6 separate regions of the Homo sapiens genome follow, and regions 2, 3, 4, 5 and 6 are each linked to region 1. Evidence: fine-mapped expression QTL. A gene starts in region 1. Each other region holds a variant in brackets. All regions are shown on one strand. Distances are from middle to middle. Region 1 holds the start of GLB1 (galactosidase beta 1). Region 2 overlaps GLB1 (galactosidase beta 1). Region 3 overlaps GLB1 (galactosidase beta 1). Region 4 has its middle 37 kb from the start of CCR4. Region 5 overlaps SUSD5 (sushi domain containing 5). Region 6 overlaps CRTAP (cartilage associated protein).

Evidence for each region.
Region 2: its variant is fine-mapped to the expression of GLB1 in T cells (TOPMed, PIP above 0.99). The same link has a PIP of 0.9 or more in monocytes after LPS and monocytes after Pam3CSK4.
Region 3: its variant is fine-mapped to the expression of GLB1 in cerebellar hemisphere (GTEx, PIP above 0.99). The same link has a PIP of 0.9 or more in blood mononuclear cells.
Region 4: its variant is fine-mapped to the expression of GLB1 in whole blood (INTERVAL, PIP above 0.99).
Region 5: its variant is fine-mapped to the expression of GLB1 in whole blood (TOPMed, PIP above 0.99).
Region 6: its variant is fine-mapped to the expression of GLB1 in monocytes (Quach 2016, PIP 0.93).

The regions. Positions count from the first base shown.
Region 1 is chr3:33,095,262-33,099,349 of GRCh38, forward strand. It overlaps GLB1 (galactosidase beta 1), which reads right to left and starts at 1,885. Exons shown (of 16, transcript NM_000404.4): 1 at 1,750-1,885. The coding sequence starts at 1,824. It overlaps TMPPE (transmembrane protein with metallophosphoesterase domain), which reads right to left and starts at 1,885. Exons shown (of 2, transcript NM_001039770.3): 1 at 1,458-1,885. RefSeq lists a silencer at 1,473-2,082.
Region 2 is chr3:33,028,368-33,032,455 of GRCh38, forward strand. The region is part of intron 10 of GLB1 (galactosidase beta 1); the gene reads right to left. Among named protein-coding and RNA genes, the nearest start is that of GLB1, 67 kb to the right of the region's middle. The variant A/G (reference allele first, on the strand shown) is at 1,768.
Region 3 is chr3:33,043,277-33,047,364 of GRCh38, forward strand. GLB1 (galactosidase beta 1) reads right to left here. Exons shown (of 16, transcript NM_000404.4): 10 at 2,844-2,956. Among named protein-coding and RNA genes, the nearest start is that of GLB1, 52 kb to the right of the region's middle. The variant A/C (reference allele first, on the strand shown) is at 2,432.
Region 4 is chr3:32,986,548-32,990,635 of GRCh38, forward strand. It overlaps a transcript of GLB1 not described here. Among named protein-coding and RNA genes, the nearest start is that of CCR4, 37 kb to the left of the region's middle. The variant C/A (reference allele first, on the strand shown) is at 1,965.
Region 5 is chr3:33,150,839-33,154,926 of GRCh38, forward strand. It overlaps SUSD5 (sushi domain containing 5), which reads right to left. Exons shown (of 5, transcript NM_015551.2): 5 at 1-3,195. The coding sequence ends at 1,904. Among named protein-coding and RNA genes, the nearest start is that of CRTAP, 39 kb to the left of the region's middle. RefSeq lists an enhancer at 1,977-3,176. The variant T/C (reference allele first, on the strand shown) is at 1,808.
Region 6 is chr3:33,119,683-33,123,770 of GRCh38, forward strand. It overlaps CRTAP (cartilage associated protein), which reads left to right. Exons shown (of 7, transcript NM_006371.5): 2 at 662-811. Among named protein-coding and RNA genes, the nearest start is that of CRTAP, 7.7 kb to the left of the region's middle. The variant G/A (reference allele first, on the strand shown) is at 1,588.

The sequences.
Region 1 (4,088 bases):
GCTAAAATTTAGTTAAAATTTGAGAACCGCTGGGTCACGAGGTCAGGAGATCGAGACCATCCTGGCTAACATGGTGAAACCCCGTCTCTACTAAAAATACAAAAAAAGAAAAAAATTAGTCGGGTGTGATGGCGGGCGCCTGTAGTCCCAGCTACTCGGGAGGCTGAGGCAGGAGAATGGCGTGAACCCTAAAGAAATGTAAACAAGGAGATAATGGAAAGCTAGACTGCTGGTATCTTTCTTTAGCTGTGGGCACAGAAGCCCAAGAGGGACACCTAGGCACCTGAAATGAGAATTCCTGGGGTGATGCCAGCCTCCCTGTGTGGGCCTCAGGTATGGCAGCCACAGGGCATCCACCCTGACCCAATGACGCTGCACAAGACTGATGAGCTCACATCAGACAGATTGACCCTGTCCACCTGTTCCTGGTTCATAAATCCTTCTCTCTCTCCCTACCCCCACTCCCAGATACTGGTTAAGATCTGCCTTTCCCCTAGCCCCTTACCCTGCCACTGTTCTCCTGAACTGTGCCCCAGTTCCACCTTCCCCAGTGGTTCTCACAGCTGGCTAGCTCTGACTCCTAAGGTCCTACGGGCCTTCTGGACAAGAAAACTCTGTCTACATACTGGGGTAGGGGAACCACAGACGGGGTGAAGAGGGAGCAGCAAATAATCTGTGCTGACTTTTTCCCAAAATGAAAACATTTTCAGCAGCTGTTTTCCAAATACTTAAGATGTTCAATCTTGGTTGTAGATAAATGTACCACTTTTCTCTGCCCTAGGCACGTTATTGAAAGCGTTATTAAAGGGTGTAACTTACAAGTCAACGGTGTCAAATGCTACCAGCTCTTACTTAAAGCATACTGCAGGCTCAGCCCACCTACACCCTGGAGGAACCAAAGTTGGTCCGCGGAACGTGCAGAGGAGCAGCTTGCAACTACCCACTCTCCTTTCCGCAGGTGTGATGCAAACCTCCCCAGGCAGCGCTTTGGAGCCCCTCAGCCAGTCGCCTCAGCTCGGACGCAGCGAGTGAAGCTGTCCTTCCTCTCCCACCAACTGTGCACGCCCCGCACCTCACCTATTCGCCTCGCCAGCCCTGCCCCGATCAACGATGGCATCCCCCGGCAGCCTGCCTATTCCCCCCCTCAACCTGGACCCCCAAACGCCGAAGGAAAACGGTCCCACAAATACAAAGAAAAACCCAAGCCAAAGGGCAGGCGACGGGGAGTGGTGAGAAAGGAACAAGATGCACGAAGAGGGAGAGCACCCAGAGGGGAAATAACCCAATGTTCCCACTGCAAGGGCCTCTCCTGACCCCATTTTTCTCCTTCCGGAGCGCTCCGCAGAGCACCAACTGGGAAAGCGAGGGCGCCCCAAACCAGAGCCGGAGGCACCCTCTAACCCGCGCAACTTGGAATCCCCTCCCGGAAAGCCAACTTAGGAAATGTTTACACGCACCTCGTCTCAACACCTCGTTACAGATGGGGAAGTGGATCCAAGCGCAAAGGGCGGCCGGAGCGGAACGCACAAGCGACCGAGCTGCCTGGAAGGACGCGCGCCCCGCCCGGCCCGCCCCCGACGGGAAGGCCGGTCCACTGCCTGCGTTCCGCCGGCCGCGAGCCTGCTGGGGGGCACTTCGGGGCTCAGGCTCCCCGCCCTGCGGGACCGCGGGTGGCTGCGACCCCAGCCCGGTTCCCCGCCAGCCTGTCCCCTAGCAATGCCTCCCCGTACCCGGGTCCCGCAGACTTACGCGCAAGCCGCGCGTAGGGCCCAGAAGCAGCAGAACCAGCAACAGAGGGAGGATGCGAACCAGGAACCCCGGCATGACCACCAGCCTCCCGGCTCTGCAGTCGGCGCCCAGGCCGGCCGCTTCGCGTCACTTGACTAAGGACCCACGGCCTGGCACCGCCCCTCGTCGGCCCAGCAGCCAGCCCTCGCGCCTGCTCAGCCCCGCGCCCCGCCCCGCTGTGGCCGAGCCGGGCGGGTGGGGGCGGCTAGGAGGCTGCGCGCCGCCGCGTGACTCCAGGATAGTACTATCTGGGTTTTGCAGGCGTCTTCCCTGGGAAGGGACCCTTTGGAACTGCAGTCCGGAGGGCCTGCTTTCAGCAGCTTGATAACGCGCCTCGGGGATTGGACATGAATCATGGTCTCCCTGTTCCCTGGCTGCCTTGAGAGAGCAGAAGAGGGAAATTGTTAATCATTAAACCTAAACGCCCTAGATGGAATCCGCGTCTCATATACGGGCTCTTTGAATAACTCTAAGCCGGGGGTTAGCAAAATGTGGTCGGTCCCTGGAGCCACTGTATCAACTCACCTGGAACTTGTTAGAATGAAAATCCTGCTCACGCCTGTAATCCCAGCACTTTGGGAGGCCGAGGCGGGCGGATCGCCTGAGGTCAGGAGTTCCAGACCAGCCTGACCAGTATGATGAAACCCCGTCTCTACTAAAAATACAAAAATTAGCCGGGCGTGGTGGCAGGCGCCTGTAATCCCAGCTACTGAGGAGGCTGAGACAGGAGAATCGCTTGAACCCGGGAGGTGGAGGTTGCAGTAAACCGAGATCGAGCCATTGCGCTCCAGCCTGGGCAATAAGAGCGAAATTCCGTATCAAAAAAAAATTTTCTTTTTTAAAATAACCTTAGTTTATGCCTTGGTGTTCCAAAAAGCCTTTTTACATTGTATAACAAAGTAGCCAAAATTCTATTTGTTCACTCCTTTCTCCTTTCCTACCGGACATGTCCTTGAGAGATTGAGAAAGTATCAGAAAGGACATTTCATTGAGAGATTGAGAAAGTATCAGTTACTGGCTTTTCTTAGGTTTTTGTTTTTTGGTTTGGGGGGTTGTTTTTTTGTTTTGTTTTTGTGTTTTTTGAGACAGGGTCTCACTCTGTCACCCAGGCTGGAGTGGGGCGCAATCACGGCTTACTGCAGCTTTGGCCTCCTGGGCTCAAGCAATTCTCCCGTCTCAGCCTACCAAGTGGCTGGGACTACAGGCGTGCGCCACCACACCCGGCTAATTTTTGTATTTTTTGTAGAGACAGGGTCTCACCACGTTTCCCAGGCAGGTCTTGAAGTTCTGGGATCAAGCAATCTACCTGCCTGGAACTCCCAAAATGCTGGAATTACAGACATGAGCCACCGTGCCTGGCTTCTTTTCATGCCTGTAGTACCAATTCCGTGTCCTTGCACTGTGAAGTCCTTTCCAAGCTCTGCAATTCTAGTTCAGTATTAAAGAACAAGGGCTCTGGAGGAAGTACACTTGAGTTGGAATTCCAGCTCTGCCACTTACTGTCTGTGTAACTGTGGGCAAATTACTTAACCTCTCTGAGCTTAGTTTCTTTGTTGGTAAAGCAGGGCTAATAATATCAAATTCACTGGATAATTGGGGAAATTACCAGAGATGATGACGATAAGAAGCTTGGTATATACAGGATGTTAGTGGGACAGTTGATGAAATCAGAATTAGACTTGTAGGTTAGATTAGTACCATGCATCAATGTTAATTTCCTTTTTGGGGGGGTGGGGGGACAGAGTCTCACTCTGTCACCCAGGCTGGAGTGCAGTGGCACAATCTCGGCTCACTGCAACCTCCGCCTCCCAGGTTCAAGTGATTCTCCCACCTCAGCCTCCAAAGTAGCTGGGATTACAGGCACCCACCACTAGGCTTGGCTAATTTTTGTATTTTTAGTAGAGATGGGGTATCACCATGTTAGCCAGGCTGGTCTGGAGCTCTTGACCTCAAGTGATTTGCCCACCTCGGCCTCCCAAAGTGCTGGGATTACAGGCATGAGCCACTGTGCCCGGCCGCATCAATGTTAACTTTCTGATTTTGATAATGGTACACGGTCTAAATATTAAATAATAGTTTTGTATTAGTGTATTGATTTGGGTAACGGTAATGGTAATTTTGGTAATGGTTATATAAAAGAACATCCTTGTTTTTTAGGAAACAAAAGGGCATCATCTTTGCAACTGATTCTCAAACAGTTCACAAAAAAAAATGGAGAGAGAGAGAAAGAGAGAGAGAGAGAGGGAGAGAAATGGTATTCCAGGCATGAAAAGAACGTGAGAAAGAAAAGCAAATGTGGT
Region 2 (4,088 bases), 67 kb before region 1:
TTTCAGCTTCTCTCCTAGTTATCTTTGTACCTTTAAAATAATATCCTTATATCTTTATTTATTAGTTCCATCAATTAGCATATTACCCTATGTCGCCTCTTTTTTCTCGTTTTGTTTTTTTGAGATGGAGTCTCAAACTTCATGTCTATAGCATTATCCTTTTAAATTTTTATTTTTTAAAAGTAACACTCTGAGTGTGGGGTGACTAGGTCAAAGGATATGAGTATAAGACTCTTAAAATAGTGTATACTCACATTTTCATCAAGTATCCATACTTGCTTATGTCATTTACCCAAAAATTTTTTTTTTTTTTTTGATACGGAGTTTCGCTCTTGTTGCCCAGGCTGGAGTGCAATGGCACAATCTCGGCTCACTGCAACCTCCACCTCCCAGGTTCCAGCGATTCTCCTGCCTCAGCCTCCCGAGTAGCTGGGATTACAGGCATGCACCACCACGCCTGGCTAATTTTTTGTATTTTTAGTAGAAACGGGTTTTCTCCATGTTGGTCAGGCTGGTCTCAAACTCCTGACCTCAGGTGATCCGCCCGCCTCGGCCTAAGTGCTGGGATTACAGGCGTGAGCCACTGCGCCTGGTCATCATTTACCCAATTTTCTATGTAGATCTTGATATTCTGATCAGTGATATTAGCTCATTATAATACAGATATTAAGCTTTCATCTGTCTATCCCATTTACTACAATTTTCTAACTTTTCATTTTAATATTGATGATTTTCATTGATACTAGTTTGATTATCATATAGCAAAATCCTCATCTTTACCTTAGCTAATTAATGTTTCAGAAAAGAAATGAACAAATATACCAAAATGCTATACTTCTAAACCATTATTTTTCCATAATAATTTGTGCTTTAATCATACTTTTCAGAGCAATCAGAAATGTTGCTTCTCATACTTAACCGGACACATTCAACACGGGAAGCTGCTCTTTTCCCTGTGGAATCCACTAGATTCAATGGTGACCAGCTTTTCCTTCACCAAGACCTCTAATGTTTTCATACATTCATCCAACAAACTCTTATTAAGAAAGTACTCTGTGTCAGGTCCTATGCTTGGTACTAGACTTATAAACCTATTCCAGAGAGTGAGAAATGTGTATAAATCAGTTATATTAATACACCACAAAAAGTAGTATTTTCACTAGTAAAGACACGGAATCAACCTAAATGACAATCAATGGTAGACTGGATAAAGAAAATGTGGCATATATACACCATGGAATACTATGCAGCCATAAAAAAGAAACAAGATCATGTCCTTTGCAGCAACATGGATGGAGCTGGAGGCCATTATCCTAAGCAAACTAATGCAGGAACAGAAAACCAAATACTGCACATTCTCACTTATAAGTGGGAGCTAAATGATGAGAACACATGGACACAAAGAGGGGAACAGACATCAGGGCCTACTTGAGGGTGGTAGGTAGGAGGAGGCAGAGGATCAAAGAATGACCTATCAGGTACTATGCTTATTACCTGGGTGACAAAATAATCTGTATACCAAACCCCTGTGACACACAGTTAACCTACACAACAATCTTGCACATGTACCCATGAACCTAAAAGTTAAGAAAAAAAAAAAAAAAGAAAAGTAATGTTTAAAAGATTTCTACAACATAAGTGATAGAAAACAAAATGTGACTAACTTGGCTGACAAGTGGGTCAAAGAAGACTCTGCAGATAAGGTAACTGAGGTGTGTCTTCATTTCCAGGTGAATAAAGGCAGAGGGTGCAGAGACCAGGAGGTAT[A/G]AACAGTGCTGTTTCATTCATGGAATTGTATATAGCTCCAACTTAAGGCCAGGAAGTCACATCTAAGAAGGGAGAATTGAAAGATGAGGCTGGAAAAATATAGGGGCCAAGTCATGGAAGGTATCCTGACCACATCAGTGTTTTAGATACTACACTTGATCTTAGCCAAAAGACTGAGAAGCGATCACATCAGTGTTTTAGAGAAATCACTCTGGGAGAGGGACTAGAAAAGCCAACTCTACAGGAAACGAAGAGACCAGTACTACAAGAGAGCAGGTGACACTTTAAAAGACTATTTAACAGTTGCTAAGTAATATTGCCTTTCTCATCTGTAACCATCAGACATAAAACACTGGTTTTCACCAGCACTATACATCAGCAAGAGACAGCTGTGTCTGCGTATCAAGCCAATGTCATTCCAGTCATAAACAGTGCAGGATGATCAATCAGCCAGTGTAGACAAATCCTGGATCAAATTTCAAACTTCATTAAGCTTTTGAAGTACAGAAAAAATCACTGTGGCTGTTCTCCCATCCCCTCTTCACCACTCAGCCCAGTTACTACCTTTGGGAATCCCAGAATCCACTCCAATTATCAAGGTCCTCACTACCACTTGATTAATTTCTACAGTGACCCATTTCCAAAACATCAGCGGAACTCTTACGTTGATGGAATCCCTATAAAGAACAGAAACAAAACTCTTAAAATGGGTCTTAAGTTGATTTGACAGCATACAAAAATAAACTCACCACTGCCCCTCTCAGGAATCAGTAGGGAAGAGGAGGTCGCTGCCCTATATTTTTATGGTTCATCCTCGAGGTCAAAGTGTTAACCATGTTTGGTTGAGTTTTACCCACACCAAAGCAAATACCTTTTAAAATGCAAATGTCATGAGCTTTGCCATGCCTTGAAGATTCATATGAAGACAACCGCCTGGGGGCCTTCACCACTGAGCACAGGCTTATGCAGCCTGCTGGGAGATTATCCCCAGGAGTCCATGTCAGTGAAATATATTGCCCATCACCACCTAATGTGTTCTTGAAATGGATTACAGAGGAGACATATTCCGCTTTTTGAGTCTTTGATGAAGGAAGGAGGCAGGTAGAGCTATATACAGGGGATATCTACCATCCAATTTCCTTTACTTGATGCAAGCAAATATTTTGAAGATCATTTAACAAATCAGCTAATGGAATGTCTACAAAGTCTCATAAGAAAGAGCCCACTGGCTGGGTGCGGTGGCTTACACCTGTAATCCCAGCACTTTGGGAGGCCAAGGCGGGTGGATCACTTGAGGTCAGGAGTTTGAGACCAGCCTGGCCAACATGGCGAAACTCCGTCTCTACTAAAAATACAAAAATTAGCCACGTGCATTGGTGTGCGCTTGTAATCCCAGCTACTCGGGAGGCTGAGGCAAGAGAATCACTTGAACCAGGGAGGTGGAAGTTGCCTGGGTGACAGAGCAAGGCTCTGTCTCAAAAAAAAAAAAAAAAAAAAAAAAAAAAAATATATATATATATATATATATATATATATATATAATCTCCACTAAATCTTGTAGTTAATTTCTCTTTCAAACCAGAAATATCAAAAAAAGAGGGAAAATATGACATGTTAAGCTGCAATCTATCATAAGCTATTGAATTACATTCATTTCTTTTTTTGTTTTGTTTTGTTTTTGAGACAGAGTTTTGCTCTTGTTACCCAGGCTGGAGTGCAATGGCATGATCTCGGCTCACTGCAACCTCTGCCTCCTGGGTTCAAGCGATTCTCCTGCCTCAGCCACCAGAGTAGCTGGGACTACAGGCATACGCCATCATGCCCACCTAATTTTTTAATTTTTAGTAGAGATGGAGTATCACCATGTTGGCCAGGCTGGTCTCGAACTCCTGACCTCAGGTGATCCACCCACCTCGGCCTCCCAAAGTGCTGGGATTACACACGTGAGCCACTGAGCCTGGCAATTTCTAAAGACTCTGTCTCCTTTGTGGGTTCTCTTACTCTGCCCAGTTGTTAAAGCTTGGGATCCCCTGGGTTTGTCTTTTGCTTGGCCCATTGCCCTCCTCAGTCAGCTCCCCATGTGCAGTCTCAACCTCTCCCTGGACTTCGGCTTCCATTTGCACTGATCGCCCCAGAATCTGCGCCAACCTTTCCGACTTCTCCCTGGAGTGTCTTACTATTAAGTGTTGGTGCTTATGGAGAAATCTGTCTACCTGGATGTTCCTGGAAATATTGAGCTGAATAAGCCCAGAATTGAACTTGCTTCCCCTGTCCCTGCCAGGGCCTCCTCTGCAATCCTCTATCTCAGGTGCCGATCCCAG
Region 3 (4,088 bases), 52 kb before region 1:
GGGTATGTGTGTCAATGACTAGAGAGGGACATTAGAGGGGCTTCCGGGGAGCTATGTGTTTGTCACAGGGCTGCGCTCCCGTTGCCTAAATTCACTGAGCTGTGTACTACGAGTTGTTCTTTTCTGGGGGTATAGATGTCACACTTAAATGGTAACCACTAAAAAAATTAGAATGCAGTGAATAACTTCCAAAGTAGAAGAGGGGGGAAAGAAATAAGAGGAAAAAACAAAACAAAACAAAAAACCTCAATCTAAAAGAAAGCAATAAAGGGAAAGAAAGAGCCAAAAAGGTAAACGAATAGAAATTATAAAATAAGATAATTGAAATTCATCTATGTATATCAAGAAGTACAATGAATGAGAATGTATAAATATATCAGTTAAAAGACAAGAAATTTCAAACTAGATATTTTAAAAATTCGATTATATCCTGTTTATAAGGGACACATGTAAACAGAACAAAGGATATAAAAAGGATGAAATTACAGCATTGGGAAAGATACCTCAGAAAAATACCAAGCAAAAGTATGCAGGTAAATGGTGTTAATGAATAACAGACCAAAAAAAGAAAAAAAAAAAAAAAAAAGGCTTCCAGGCAAAAAGCCTTATTAGAAATAGAGGGTTATATAATCCCTTTACTATTAAGTACTGAAGGATGTAATTCTCAATTTGCCCACCTAATAACATAACCTCAGAACTGGCAGAGCTACAAAGGGAAATACATGAGGACAACTCTCACTAAATAGTAGACTGAACTGACAAAAAATTAGGAAGCAGATCAAAGATATCAATGGCACCATTAATAAACTTAATCTGATGAACATGTATGTAGAATATAGTCAACAACTGTAAAATATACTTTCTTTTTATGCGCACATTGACCATTAATATTGGTGTATGTCAGGCTCTAAGACTAGGCTCAGCAGCTTTCAAGGGATTGGTATCACAGACTATATTCTCTAACCAGAATGCAAAAAGACTAGAAATCAAAAAAACAGGAAAGTACTTATTTCCAGTAATTTAAAAAACACATATCAATGGTGAAGAGAAATCAAAATAGATATGTTTAGAAGCAAACAGTAAGAAATAGATTGCACATCAAAACTTACGAGATAAAGCCACAGCAGTACTTGAAGGAAATTTATAACCTTAAATATTTATATTAGAAAAGAAGAAAGGCTGCATTAAAAAGCTAAGCTTCAAATAAAGGAAGGAAATAATAAAGATAGGAACAGAAAGCTTCAAAACAGAACAAACATACAAGGGAGAGCTTGGGAGACATTACTATAAATTCTGTGGAGATTAAACCCATAATAAAGGAATAACATAAGCAACATTTTAACAATACATTTGAAAATTTAGATGAAATGGACAAATTATAAGTGTGGTAAGTCTAGATTGTATTTTTTATATTTAAAAAATTTGTAATATTCATTTTAACACATGCTTAAAATTAAAACGACATCATACTTAAAACAAAAAAAACCATACCATTTATAGGCAGAAAACCTTTGTTTTTTTAACTTCAAAACTCAGGTGACTGAGCATAAAAACTGTGGGTTTTTTCTTTTAACCCACAGCAGAGACAGGAAACCCCACCTAGGTGCATTAGGTGCCTCAAAAGGGTACAACGCTAGCAGGACTAAGCAGTTCAGATGCAGTCCAGAAACAGCAATCACTTGCTCCAAATAGAAAAATGAAGCTTCACTGACAGCTGACATCTGCACCATGCTTCACAGTATCTGAAGATTTTTTTTCCTATGTACATCAGCTATTTAAGTAGACACACATTTTCTTACATTTAAGATAAATAATAGTTAACGGCTACCACTTATTAGACATATATGTGTCAGGAACTGTCCTGGATGGCTTACATACGTTCTTTTCAAGCTTTACAGCACAACCAGATGCTGTAATCCCAGTTTTACAAATTAACAATCAGTAGACTGATTTGCTCATAGACTCACTCTTTTTTTTTTTTAGGTAAATAAATAATTATTGTTCATTTATTTGACTATGAAAGAAGAAAACAAACATTTATTGAGTGCCATTTATTTTTAAACTGTACAAGTCTGTGAGGTAAGTACGGCTACCTCTACTTTTATATAAAGGGAATTTACACAATTGGCTTAAGGTTGAAGAAATAGTGTCCAGGTTCAAAATCTGGTGTTCCTCATTCTGAAATCACATAGTCTGTATATTGGGCCACACATAAAAAGGAAAATAGTTTATCTTCTTCTCTCTTGCAAATAAGGACGGAGTTATTTTCTAGTGAGAAATAATTCTTATACACTTTGGTTACTGGAAACTTACTTTTTTCAGATGATGCATTAAATAAAGAAACCAGAGCTTAGCTTTACCTCTTTTGATATTGAAGTACATTAGCTGTGTCTCAAGGATAGGGGCTCCCATATATCCATGCTGCCTTAAT[A/C]GGGGCTATAGTCTCAAGAGGATCTGTGCATTCTCTCCCATCACCCTACCTCTCACCTGAACTTTTGGAAAGATAATCTGGCCTGGAAGGAGAAGAAAATGGAGACAGAAATTTCCCCGGGTGAATTCTCACCATATAAGAAGTGAATCTGTAAGTAGCATTTAACACTGTATTATATATTGCAGTTTTTAAATACATGTCTTATATCTCCTACTCTCCTATAAGCATCTGCTCATAGACTCACTCTTAACCACGTGGGTACAAGATGCAAACCCAAGTCTAGCTGATGCCTCCCTTCATCCATCCTTTTAAACAGGAGGGCTCCAGGCAGGAAGTTGTCCACAGAGCCACAGTGAGTTCAAAAGAGGCTCTGTCCAAGATCAGCCCACCACAGCTCATACAAAGCACCCACCTTCTGGATGATGTTTCGCAGAGCAAAATACTTCTCAGTGAGGTCCCCAGCCTCACTCAGTGGGGCATCATAGTCGTAGCTGGTGGGCTGTGCTGCATAGGGTGAGTTGGCCCCTAGAAGACAAAAATGTGCCACTAGTTATTACTGATGGTGCAGCTCTGGGACAAGTTCTTTGGGATCCATGAGCTCAGCACTGTAGAGAGAGAAAACTAGAAGACACATTAAAACCACTTGTTGGGAGACACAGACGTGACCCTCAGGATGCAACGTTTAGAGGAAGGAATTTCTTTCTACAGGTAGCAGTTACCAGGCACCTTAGAGTTTACCAAGGACTCTTTCCATCCACTCTCTACAGAAGCTCACAGCTGTGATTCTAGCAGGTATCACCCCCACTGGACAAGCAGGGAATCTGAAGCTCCCCACAAAAATCTGCTAACACCTCACAAGCAGTAATGGCAGGGCTTATGATATGACCCCCATCTCTGACTGTTAATCCTGTCAACTCTGAACTTTTTCACGTCCTCAAGCTGTGGCTGAGAAAAGCTCAGTGGTGAAGACACAGATGACTAGGCCATGGATCAGCAGAAAACCCAGGGCTTATTAAACCAAACACAGCGGGAGATGACAGCAGACCCACATCAGCCACAGAGGTTCAAACATAATCCGAGGGCCTTTGTTGCATCTACAAAGACTGTCGATGGGGCTGTGGTGCACCTCTTGGATCCCCCTTTAGAACCAGGGCACTCACTCATTCTCCCAGCAGCTAGGGCTGTTGTCTGCTGACATTTCTCAGATGTGTCCGTCTCTGGGTGCTGGCCTGTGCTGAGCTGCCTCACCCAAGGTTACAACCCTCAGGGATAGCCCACATCCAACAACTGACCAATGTGCCTCGAACAGCCAACCCAGCTGCAGAGCTCCCTCTAAGATTGGATGAGGCCACTTGTGAAGCTGCATCATAGCCCCACTTCTCCCTCTCTATCCTACAGGCATTGCTCCAGAGAGCACAATCAATAAGCTTTCTACCAGGTAATCTCAGAGTCTGTTTCCCTGGGAACTTGACCTACAACAAAGACCAATGGATAATGCCAACACTGAGTATACAAAAGGACTAGAAAAACAAATGCCCCTGCAGTCACTGTGCAAGGGGCGGGGTCTAGACCAGAGGATCCCGACCTTGTCAGGGATGATGTTCACAGGTATGAGGTTGTCTGCAACATTGGGTGGTACTTCAAAAACTTACCCATG
Region 4 (4,088 bases), 110 kb before region 1:
TGGTCTTTCTCTCTCTTAGTTCTGGCCATCTACATAGACTGTTTCTCTTTTTTTTTTTTTTGAGATGGAGTCTCGCTCTGTCTCCCAGGCTGGAGTACAGTGGCATGATCTCGGCTCACTGCAACCTCTGCCTCCCGGGTTCACGTGACACTCCTGCCTCAGCCTCCCAAGTAGCTGGGATTACAGGTGTGTGCCACCACACCCAGCTAATTTTCGTGTTTTTAGTAGAGACAGGGTTTCACCATGTTGGTCAGGCTGGTCATGAATTCCTGACCTCAGATGATCCACTCGCCTTCGCCTCCCAAACTGCTGGGATTACAGCCATGAGCCACTGCTGCAATAGACTATTTCTTTAACCTGGAATACTCTTCCCCTACTGTTCACCTGACCAACTATTGCTCATCACTCAAGTCTCAGTTTAGAGACCGACAGCAGATGCTGATGATGCCCACCCAACTTTCCTTTATGGACTGGTGTACCCAGTCCCCAGCTACCATGAGCGTTGGCTGCTAACAGCTCACAGATGCCCTCTTCTCTTTTTTTATGGCCAATTCCCTACTACCTCCCCACAGTACAACTAGTCCTCCCCTCCCACCAGTGGCAGCCTGCGGCCAATGGCTGGCTGACACGGATGGAAGGTTAAAAGACTGGCCCTCTTGACTCAAGGTGCATCCAATTTTGTGGTGAAATTAATGTGTGTGAGTTTCTCTGGAACTAGCAGCCTGATCTGACCTAGGCTAGATACATGAGGGAGCCAAGCCAACATCAGTGGAGCCTGTTCCAGACCAGAAGAACCATATAGCAGAATCATGAACTAAACAGTTGGTTTAAGCTGAAAGTAGTCTCCTTGCTTACCTTTACTCTCTTGCCCTGCACCCTTCCCTCACTTCCTTTCTCCTTAGAGCATCCCCTCTGTAAACCACGTGCACACAAAGCCCTGTCTTTGGCTCTGCAGTAAGACAGAATGCCTGGCTGCCCAGGCCTGGATTGTGAACCCCTCTTCTGCTGCTCTGCCACTCTGTACTGTCTCTCACTATGGTGCCCATGAGACTGCATTGAACTGTCTATTTACTTATCTCTTCTACTAACTAAACCTTTTGAAGGCATAGGTCATGTTTTTATTATTATTGCTATTGATAGTATCTCAATACTCTTTTAAAAAGAGACTGAGAGATGGGGTGATAAAGTGGTTATCATTTTATTCTCAATGCCCAGCATGTATTAGGTACACCTTAATAGTTGAATGAATGAATGAGTGAAAGTTGTCCTGGATTTAACAAAGAGATGCAGGCTACAAGCATTTTTGCAGAGAATATTGGAGCTTAATAACATTTCCATAAAGAATGGATCTTAGAGGCTGGGTACGGTGGCTCATGCCTGTAATCCCAGGATTTTGGGAGGCTGAGGCAGGTGAATCATTTGAGGTCAGGAGTTTGAGACCACCTGACTAACATGGTGAAACCCCATCTGTACTAAAAAATACAACACAATTAGCTGGGTGTGGTGGTGCATGCCTGTGTCCCAGCTACTTGAGAGGCTAAGGCAGGAGAATTGCTTGAACCCAGGAGGCAGAGGTTGCAGTGAGCCAAGATTACGTCATTGCACTACAGCCTGGGTGACAGAGCAAGACTCCATCTCAAAAAAAAAAAAAAAAAAAAAAGGATCTTAGAGACTTTTAAGGTGCAAAGACCAAGGACTTAAGTGATAGGCTCACTGAAATGAAGAAGGGGAAATTTCAGTGTATAAAAAACATGGGAGCAGAAAATGGCAAAATTGGTCACTAAGAGAAAGAGGAAGAGTTGGGACCAACGTGTTGTTGAAGTGTCCTGCTCAGTGAGGAGGGACTGAAAGTTCAGTTCACACCTGCTGTATGGTATTCACATTCTACATATGTTACTATTCAGATAACATGGGCACTGACGTTTTATATCAGAGTGAAGAGTTGGTTGCTTTCAAAAGCATTG[C/A]TCTATCTGAATTCTTGAGATGGGTGGCTCCTTCCTAGCTATTAAGAGGCAAAATTCTGGTGCCCAGAGTGGAAAGAAAACCAGACAGTTAATCTCAGTCTTTTTACTCTGTCCTCCACTTCTGTTTCCTGAACAATCAGAATTCCATCTTTTACCAGGTTGGCTTTTGTAGAGTTTGCAGTGAACTGAGATGAATCTGCAGTGACTTCAGGACAGGATCTGGAATATGTATTTCAACAATATCTTCCTGTTATCAGCCTATCAGGCAATCACAGAAGCTTTTAATAGAAAGCTAGATAAAACTAGTCCTCCACCTAACAACTGTTTTTTCCTGTTTTTTTTTTCTACAAGCTCTTTTTTTCTTGTAGATATTTAGTACTGCAAAAATCCCATCTAGTGGAAGCCCTTGGCATGGTAAGGTTTGGTTCCAGGTAATCACAATTTTAGGGTACAAAACCATGAAAGACTTATCAAGATCACTGGGGTGGGGGTGGGGTGCTGGCAGCAGCACAGTGACCTCTGGTCCACTACAAATAAACTCTTCAGAGAGTTTCTTGAGTATTTTACCATATTTGTCCTTTGGACTTTGCAAATGGCTTCTTGATATCTGCCGATCATGGCAGACAGTGGACAGATGAACCCAGTTGCCCACCAGGGAAGTTGTGATGTTCTTAGCATCAGAAGGCCTCAGGTTGATGTCAGTCTGTGGTGCTTCTCTGCCCTCTCTCATGTCTCCTCAGCCCGTTTCACCTCAAGGAAGAGCTCCCCTCCAGAGAAAAACCGAGAGTCATCATTTGCCTGCTCAACTATGAATAAAGTTCCACGTACCTTCTCTCTGCTCACTTCTTTCAGAGGCACTTCCGGCTCACGAAACTCTTCAGCTAAGTTCCTGGGGAATTTGCTGAGTGTCAAAACATGAATTAAACCAGAAGAGATATGATAGTGGGTTTTGTCTGAGAGGGATGCCCAGCCTTGTGAATAAGTCATCTTCCAGTGTGGAGGATTGCTTGCTCCCTGACCTGTATCCACTGGGGACCCACATATACCGGGCATTCTGCTCACCAGAGACACACACAAGACTCATGGGTCAATCACCAAAACCTGGGGCCACAGCTCAGACCTGATCTGTCATGTCAGACAAGGCTGAAATATTGTTCTTCTGTGTTGTGAGTTTTCTCAAATACAATACAAAACTTTCTCCTTGCAGCTCAATCAAGGCAATCTGCATAGTAAGAAGAGTGTGGGATTTGGAGGCAAGAGACTTGGGTGTGAGTTTCAGGCCCCTGATTTTGTGTAAATCACAATTCTTCCTACCTCTTGATTTTCCTAAACTGTAAACTGAGCTGCATGCCACCCGCCCTATTTCTTCAAAAGGTTCTTATAAAGACTGAATGAAATACTGTATGCAAAAATAACACATTAAAACCACTTTATGAATGTTATTATTCTTATTAAGCACCATCAAAGTTGAAGACATGAACCTAGAAACTTCAGAGGACAAAAGATATGTGAAAATAACCAATTTTTCAGGATACTACCATCTGGTTGGAGATAGCTCTGATCCCTGCATCTCTCCTGCCTCATCTCTGTTCATTCCAACCCCAGTCAGATTGAGGTACATGCCACCAATTTCTGGAATTCTCCATTGTCTCTCCAGACCCTGGATCTCTGCAGATGCTGCCTCCCTCTGAGAAGCACTTTCTGCTCTACTCATGCCTATCTTTTCTCCTTCTTCTCTTATTCTTCACCTGGCTCAACTCCAGGAAGCCTGCCCTGACCAGTCTCTGCTCCACATCAAGTCTAAGACTGGATTCAGCATGCTCACAGCACTCTGATCTCATCGCTGTCATTGTCTACCCCTCACAAGCTACATGGTTCATTAATAGATCTGTGCGCTCCCTGAGGGGCAAGAAATGTGTCCTACACAGTGGCATGGGGTTTAGAGTAAGTATTGAATGAATGTCTATTGGGTAAATGAAAAAAACAAAACAAAACAAACCCACCTACTAAAATAGTTAAATGCTGAGGGGCTTATCCATCACACTAGAAGGGATACACCCTGAAACCTTGGGGACTCCTCACTGGGCACTTCTTGGGACACTTCCTGATTTCAAAGTCCCCAGA
Region 5 (4,088 bases), 56 kb after region 1:
ATTTCCCTCTACCACACAAAAACACTTAGACTGCTATGGTGTCTCAAAATAAATGTGTTGCATTCATCACTTTTTACCACTGATAACTATTTCTAAGAAGGTGATTCATATTAGAAAAATATAACATGTTTCATTTCTGTGCCAACATACAGGAGACTATTGCAGGTGGCATTTAGGCAGCTTCAAATGCCACCTCAGCTGCACACAGCCATGCCTGACTTCCACACAACACACACCACATACTCATCTGTGCCTTTAGGGCTTCAGCTGGCCTCGAAGTTCACATTTGAGATTATTATAAACCAACAGGCTCTCAAACTTGAGTGCATATCAAAATCACCTGGAGGGCTTGTTAAAAACAGAACTGGGCCCTACTCCCAGGGTTCCTGTTTCCTGAGTCCAGGGTGGGACTAGAGAATTTGCATCTCCAACAAATTCCCAGGTGACGCTGATGCTACTGGTCTGAGGACCACACTTTGAGAACCACTGCCATAAACCATCCTCGCTGAGCCACCCTAAGATGATTTAGATGCTACGAAATGGGTTACCCAACAGACAGGATGGATTCTGTTTCCACAGAGCTCCCAGTTTCCACACTAGAGAACAGATCAGCACAGATCATTTCATATTCTTTCACAGATTCTTCTGCTTCTCCATCAAGTATGTGCCCATACTTGATAACCTGGTGTTCGGCCCTCTGAAAACATTTCTTTTTTTTTTCTCCCGTGTCATTCTCTCTTACTGGAGTTCAGAGAAATGGTTAATCCTGAGAGAGGAAACCAAGGACTGAGTTTTGTTAGTCCTGGCAAAAATTCCAAGACATTCCTAGGCACAGACTGGTCAAGGACAACTAGGCCACTGCTTCTGAGAGGAAATGGTACTTACTGGTACAAAGCTAACTTTGTTTTTAAAAAATAATGGCAAATCCTTAACCATGAAATATTGAAAATAAAATAAAATAAATGACAGACTGTCCCACAGAATGGAGGGAACAGAGGGGGATGTGTGTTTCTTCACTCCTCAACTCCCCCAACAAAATGTCAGTCTTAAATTCTAATTTCAAGAAACAATGAAAAAAGAAACCTCAAAGCTTCTAGACTGTGTCCTGGCTCTTGGTTCATCTGCCCTCAGCAACATCACAACATTAAAAGGAAACAACCCATTATTCTTCCATATTCCTCTCCCAATAATTCAATATCCATGTCCTAGATAATACTGCTCTCATACACTTGGTTTATCATGACTATTTATAAAATTTCAGGGCATGAAGCTGGTGATTTTCTTTCTTCAAAAAGGTAATACTGTGATGTGGCTCACACCTGGAATCCTAGCACTTTGGGAGGCTAAGGAGGGCAGATCACTTGAGGTCAGGAGTTCTTGACCAGCCTGGCCAACATGGTGAAACTCCATCTCTACTAAAAATATAAAAAAATTAGCTGGGCATGGTGGTGCATGCCTGTAATCCCACCTACTTGGGAGGCTGAGGCAGGAGAATTGCTTGAACTTGGGAGGCAGAGGTTGCAGTGAGCTCAGATCGGGACACTGCACTCCAGCCTGGGCAACAGCATGAGACTCTGTCTCAAAAAAAAAAAGATAATACTGTGATGAAGGAAGAGGCGATTTTTGACCTCACACTGGAAACAGGGCCCAAGCACAGGTCTGGGATTAGTGTAGTCAATTCCAGGGCAGATGGTGGAGGAGACATTGACATGAGTGATGATGTCACCAAAGCCTCCCTGCCCTCCCAGGTGCTCCAGAGACACTTCTCAGCCTATAAAACAAAGGGCTGAGGAAAAAATGATGAGCC[T/C]CAGTCCACCTGCGTCATGCTCTAGTGAATTATCGTGTGATGTGTCACAGTTATTTTCCTCCCAAGTGGCTTTGGGAGAACCCACTCCAAAGGTGCCTAGACCTTCTCCATCTCGATCTGCTGGTGGTAGTGCCGAGCCTGCCGCTGGCCAACATTCAGCTTGTACACAGAGCTCTTGTGCTGGCACTTGCGGTAGCCCCACACCATCCCCACACCTGCCAGGAGCAGCAGTAGGCACAGGACGGTGACAATGGTGGCGATCACAGGGCCTCTGCTGAGGCCAGGACATCCGTCCCCCACACACGACTCCAAGGTGGGATGAAGCTCCTCACTTGCACCTGGCCCGGGGCCTTCCTGTCCAAAGAAGTCTTCAGACAGCAGGTATGGGAAGCTATCCTGGATCTCAGGAACAGTGGTTTCTACTGGAGGCTGGGTGGTTGCCATGATCGTTGAGGGGATGTGGTTAGGTGTCTGCTTGACAGTGTTCACTGTTAATATCTCCAGGGTGGAGCTGGTGAGCTCATAGGACAGGGTGGCCATGGGAGATTCCTCTGTGATGAATCTCCAGGGTAGAGTTGACTGGTACTTCGTCAAGTCACCATCCCCAATGCCCTCAGTCTCGGAAGCATTCACGGGTCTGAGCGCCAAAGCTTCCACATCTAGCATTTGAGATGGAAGAACTGAACTATGGGTCATGCCCTCGCTTGGTGTGAGGGTGCTACTCTTGGGCTTCTTAACTTCCACAAGAATGGGCTGATCAGGAGTAACTAGGACGTTTTCATCCAGCCCTACTGACCCATCCCCTCTGTCCCCATCTTCTTCCTCTTCTGCCTCTGTCTTCCTCCAAGCCCCCTCTGTCACAGGGTAGCCATCTAACCAGGACTCATCACTGCTGCTCACCACTGGATCTCCTGCCTTGCTGTCATTCTTGCCCACAAATGGCCCCGAGGGACCATCAGTGTTGCCGTAGATCACCTTGGTTTCAGGTTCACCTGGGACCAATTTTACACCACTGTGGTTGTCTCCAGCAGAAAACTGCTTTTTGGTGTCATCATCCACCTCCTTTTCCAACCCAGGCTTGTGGAAAGCCTCAGCAGGAAACCAGAACAAGTGCTTCTGGAGCAGCCGTGATCCTGGTGAATCTGCGGGGACACTGCTCCCAGCACCAGGCAAGCCTGTGGTTGGCACAAAGACTTTATCCCGGGCTATGTTTTCTCTCCCCACAGAAATGGAGACCAGACGGTCCTGTTTTGGAGCCTCCTCAGAGGAGTCTCCCTGACCCCTGTCCTCATCTGCCTCTGTCCGGGAATCCTCCATGAGCTCTCTGAATGACACAGATCTGTCATCAGGGAAGTTATCTTCATAGTCAATGTGTGCCTCAGCCTCATCTGGAAGAAAAGAGGGAAAAAACCTCATTAGCTCCAAAGGCACAGAGCCAGTATAGAACATAAGAAAAGGAAATTAAAAGCATAAAGGCTGGGACAGAATAAATAATACTGTTATTATTCACAGATGATATGACTGTGTATCATAGATAAACCCAAATAATCTACATATGAATATTACAAGTAACTAAAATTTAACATCTGAGCTTAGGCCGGGCATGGTGGCTCACACTTGTAATCCCAGCACTTTGGGAGGCCTAGGCAGGTGGATCACTTGAAGCCAGGAGTTCGAGACCAGCCTGGCCAACATGGCGAATGCCCATCTCTAATAAAATACAAAAAAATAGCCAGGCATGGTGGCATATGCCTGTAATCCCAGCTACTCAGGAGGATGAGACATGAGAATCGCTTGAACCCGGAAGGCGGACGTTGCAGTGAGCCAACATCGTACCACTGCACTCCAGCCTGGGTGACAGAGTGAGACTCAAAAACAACAACAACAAAAACAACAACTCAAAAACAACAACAACAAAAAACATGTGAGTTTATTAGGGATACTAGGTCTACAGTAAATATAAACATCAATTGTATTTCTAAATATTGTCAATAAACAGAAAATTAAAATTTAAAAGGATGCTATTTACAATAACATTAAAAAAACCAAACACATAGGAATAAATCTAACAAAAGATGTTCAAGACTTCTACATGGAATGATATAAGACATTGCTAAGCAAAATTAAAGAAGACTTAAATGAATGGAGGAATAGACCATGATCATGTAGTAGAAGGCTCAAGATCATTAAGTTGGCAATTCTGTCCAAATCGATCTATACAGATCTAATACAATTCCAATAAAAATCTCAGACATTAACTGAATGTTAAAGTTTATGGAAA
Region 6 (4,088 bases), 24 kb after region 1:
AAGATATGGTGCAGTCATATTGGGTAATTGGAGGAAAGTTTAAGAAGGTGGTTATTTACAAAGGTGTGTGCAGTGCATGGGGAATCCACAAGAGATAGTGTTCTGCCACAGGGGTGATAGCAGTGGGATATGACCAACCCTAGGCCAAAAGGGGCAGGGGAGAGAGCAGTGATTGAAACCGGGAAGGAGGGAGACTCTATGGAGAGGGTCACCTTGAGAAGAACTGTGATCTTCAATTAAGGGACATAGCAGCCCAAGAGGACTGTGCAGGGAGGGAACCAGGAAATGAAATAACATGACCTTACTCTCTTCCCTTCCTCAGTCATCTACTGGGGCTCCTCATGGGTGAACCTCTTTGGAAGCCAGAGAGCGAGGGAGTCTGTTGTTATAGTCCACACAGGCCAGCCTCCTGGGGCATGTAGCCAGTGCAGAGTAGATTGGGAAAGGCAGACCGAGGCCATCCAGACAGTCGCTTTCAGGAAATCAGCACTTGTCTCACAGTGCCTGGACTTGGTCTTGAGGGGCCCTGGAAGTCATGGAACCTTTAGCTGGAAAAGTTATAGCAACACAAAGTTTCTGAAGGACTAAGCAGATATTCTTGTTTTACAAAAATTACCACTTAGCATCCATGGAGTAGCTTTTATGTTCTTTGTCCTTTTAGGCAAATAATCTCCCCAAAGCCATCGCCGCTGCTCACACCTTTCTACTGAAGCATCCTGATGACGAAATGATGAAGAGGAACATGGCATATTATAAGAGCCTGCCTGGTGCCGAGGACTACATTAAAGACCTGGAAACCAAGTCATATGAAGTATGTTTGGATTTTTATGTGGCAGTTAGTGGCAACCTGGACTGTTAAAGAAATGTCTCTCCATAAGCAGCTGCTGATAGCTAAGGACCTCTAGTGATTTTTGGTGACATTTGCTGAATATTATGACAATAGAAATGATTGACTTTTAGCACAAAGTGATCCATTTAATAATGATATTTTGTATGCCGTGATGATTTTAAAAGCCATGTTCCCTTTAAATGCTACATTTTAGAAATATGGTCATTTAATTATTTAGTTTTAAGAGGGTAGATTAAAGACATATCTTGGAAATCATCTAAAATGACCAGGAACACAAGAAATAGAAACATAAATCTCCAGTTTTGATGAAATGAGAAGGCATATATTTTTATACACACTTGCACACAAACGCACCCTAAATATATTAAGGTAGAAAATGAAGACGAGTTAGGAAGGCTGATGTGACAGAGTAGAGGACACTTAAATCTGCGCATCTACGAAGAAGAGTTTTGATGAGAATTAGTCGTAAGAACAACAATAAGAAAGAACGATCTCGCCCTTTTGAGCACTCACTATTGTCAAGGTCTTCTGGAACTCAGGCACTGGGGGCCTGGGTTTCAAGCAAGGGCAGGGCATTGTTGAAAATGGGAATTTGGCTGGGCACAGTGGCTCATGCCTGTAATCCCAGCACTTTGGGAGGCCGAGGCGGATGGATCACCTGAGGTCAGGAGTTTGAGACCAGCCTGGCCAATATGGTGAAACCCCGTCTCTACTAAAAATACAAAAATTAGCTGGGC[G/A]TGGTGACTCAGCATGTCTGTAAACCCAGCTACTCGAGAGGCTGAGGCAGGAGAATCACTTCATCCCGGGAGACAGAGGTTGCAATGAGCTGAGATTGCGCCACTGCACTCCAGCCTGGGCGACAGAGCGAGACTCTGTCTCAAAAAAAATGAAAGAAAATGGGGATATGTGGAAAATATCCACTAGAAGTTATAGTTCCCAAGGCCTGACCACAGGGTTTTCTGTAGAGTGATCAGATCTCAGGCTCACTTTTTGACTGCTAGGGAAAATGTATGTGTGGAAGTCTCTTTTTGGGGGTATCTGTCAGTTTTCCAGGGAAGACTTCACCAGCCTTCTGCAGGGCTGGTGGGGTGCGCATACTCCTCTGCTGGTGTCTGAGAACCAGTGTGGGGAGAGGGACAGGGTCACCCAGGTGAGTAGGAATACTTCACCTGCTTCCTGATTTTAGCCTCATGCCTCCACTTGGCCTCTGCTACGTCTGGTCCCTGACTCCTCAGCCTTTATGGGTAAAGTCTCTAGAATAAACTGCCACTCTCTGGTGAAGAGTGGCTTTGGGAGATATGATCTCTTGGGTGGGTGGGTAGGTGCTGGGAGCGGACCCAGGACCCCAACAGCCTGTTCAAACTTGCAGCCCTGCTTCTAGCTCCATGCCTTACCCCAGCCTCCCGTGGTCCCTCATGCCTGCGCATGCCAATGGGACATATAGCTTGCTTCCCCTCTGGCCCCTCCTTTGTGACTATTTCACTTCCTGCCTTTCCAAAAGTTGTTGAAATCTCATCTGCTGCTTGCTCCCTTCCCATTCTCCCATAAAAGCAATTTATGCCTTTCATAGTCTTCACTGTTGTTTTCATAGGGTTTGGGGAACGAAGCCGAGTGCGTGTGGTCAGTGCCCTGGGCTTATCTGGAATTCAGCTAGTCCTGTTGGCCCTCACTGGAGCCCTTTTGGGGTGGCTGTGCTGCCCTCCTGTGTGATCAGGGGCCTCCTCTTTCTGCTTGGTCCTTCTTGCTGCTGCTGCTGCCCCGCTGCTTCTGCAGAACCAGCTGTCTGGAGTTGGCTACTTATTGACCCATTCTTCAGGAAAGGCTCCTTCAGTTCTCAGCCTGTCTTATTTCCAGGGCATGTGGCCTGCCCAGGAGGTTTAAGAAAATCCACCCTCGGCCAGGCGCGGTCCTCATGCCTGTAATCCCAGCACTTTGGGAGGCCAAGGTGGGTGGATCACGAGGTCAGGAGTTCAAGACCAGCTGGGGCAAGATGGTGAAACCCTGTCTCTACTAAAAATACAAAAAAATTAGCCAGGCGTGGTGGCAGGCACCTGTAATCCTAGCTACTCGGGAGACTGAGGCAGAGAGAATTGCCTGAACCCAGGAGTTGGAGGTTGCAGTGAGCTGAGATTGCACCACTGCATTCGAGCCTGGGCAACAGAGCAAGACTCTGTCTCAAAAAAAAAAAAAAAAAAAAAAAGAAGAAGAAAATCCACTGTCTTTACCTGAGGCCTTAAGCTTGGTGAAAATTCTAGGTCTAAGGGGTGCCCTCAGATACCACCATTCCAGAGCAGCTGAGAACTCCAAATGGAGGGTCCCATGCTTATTCAGGGCCTGTCCTGGCCTCTGCAAGTTAGCAGGTTTTGTGTGTATCCAGGATCTCTACTTATTTCTTGGAGACCAAGCTACTTCCTTGGTCCTAGTTTATTTCTCTCTCTCTTTTTTTTTTGAGATGAAGTCTCGCCCTGTTGCCCAGGCTGCAGTGCAACGGCACGATCTTGGCTTACTGCAACCTCCACCTCCTGGGTTCAAATGATTCTCCTGCCTCAGCCTCCTGTTATTTCTCTTCTAATCGAGTCTAATCAACAATTAGCAGAAAGTCCTTGAAGTTTCCACTATCTGGCATGTGGTTGCCCTTCCTAGTAACTAGTGCTGATGCATGGTGGCACTTCTGTTTAACTGCATTGTCGGAGGAAGTGGGGTGACAGACACCTGCTGATATGGTTTGGATCTGTGTCTCCACCTAAATCTCATGTCCAGTTGTAATCCCCAGGGTTGGAGGTGGGGCCTGGTGGGAGGTGATTGGATCATGGGAGTGGATCCTTTATTAATGGTTTAGCACCATCCTCTCTGTGCCATTCTCATGATAGTGAGTGAGTTATCATGAGACCTAGTTGTTTAAAAGTGTGTAACACCTCCCCGCTCTCTTCCTTCTTCTCTGGCCATGTGAAGTGCCGGCTCCCTGTTTGCCTTCTGCCGTGATTGTAAGTTTCCTGAGGCCTCCCCAGAAGCAGAAGCTGCTATGCTTCCTGTATAGCCTGCAGAACCATGAACCAATTAAACCTCTTTTATTTATAAATTACCCAGTCTCGGTTTTTTTTTTTTTTTTTTTTTTTTGACAGAGTCTCGCTCTGTCACCCAGGCTGGAGTACAGTGGCACAATCTCAGCTTACTGCCACCTCCGCCTCCTAGGTTCAAGTGATTCTTGTGCCTCAGCCTCGTGAGTAGCTGGGACTAC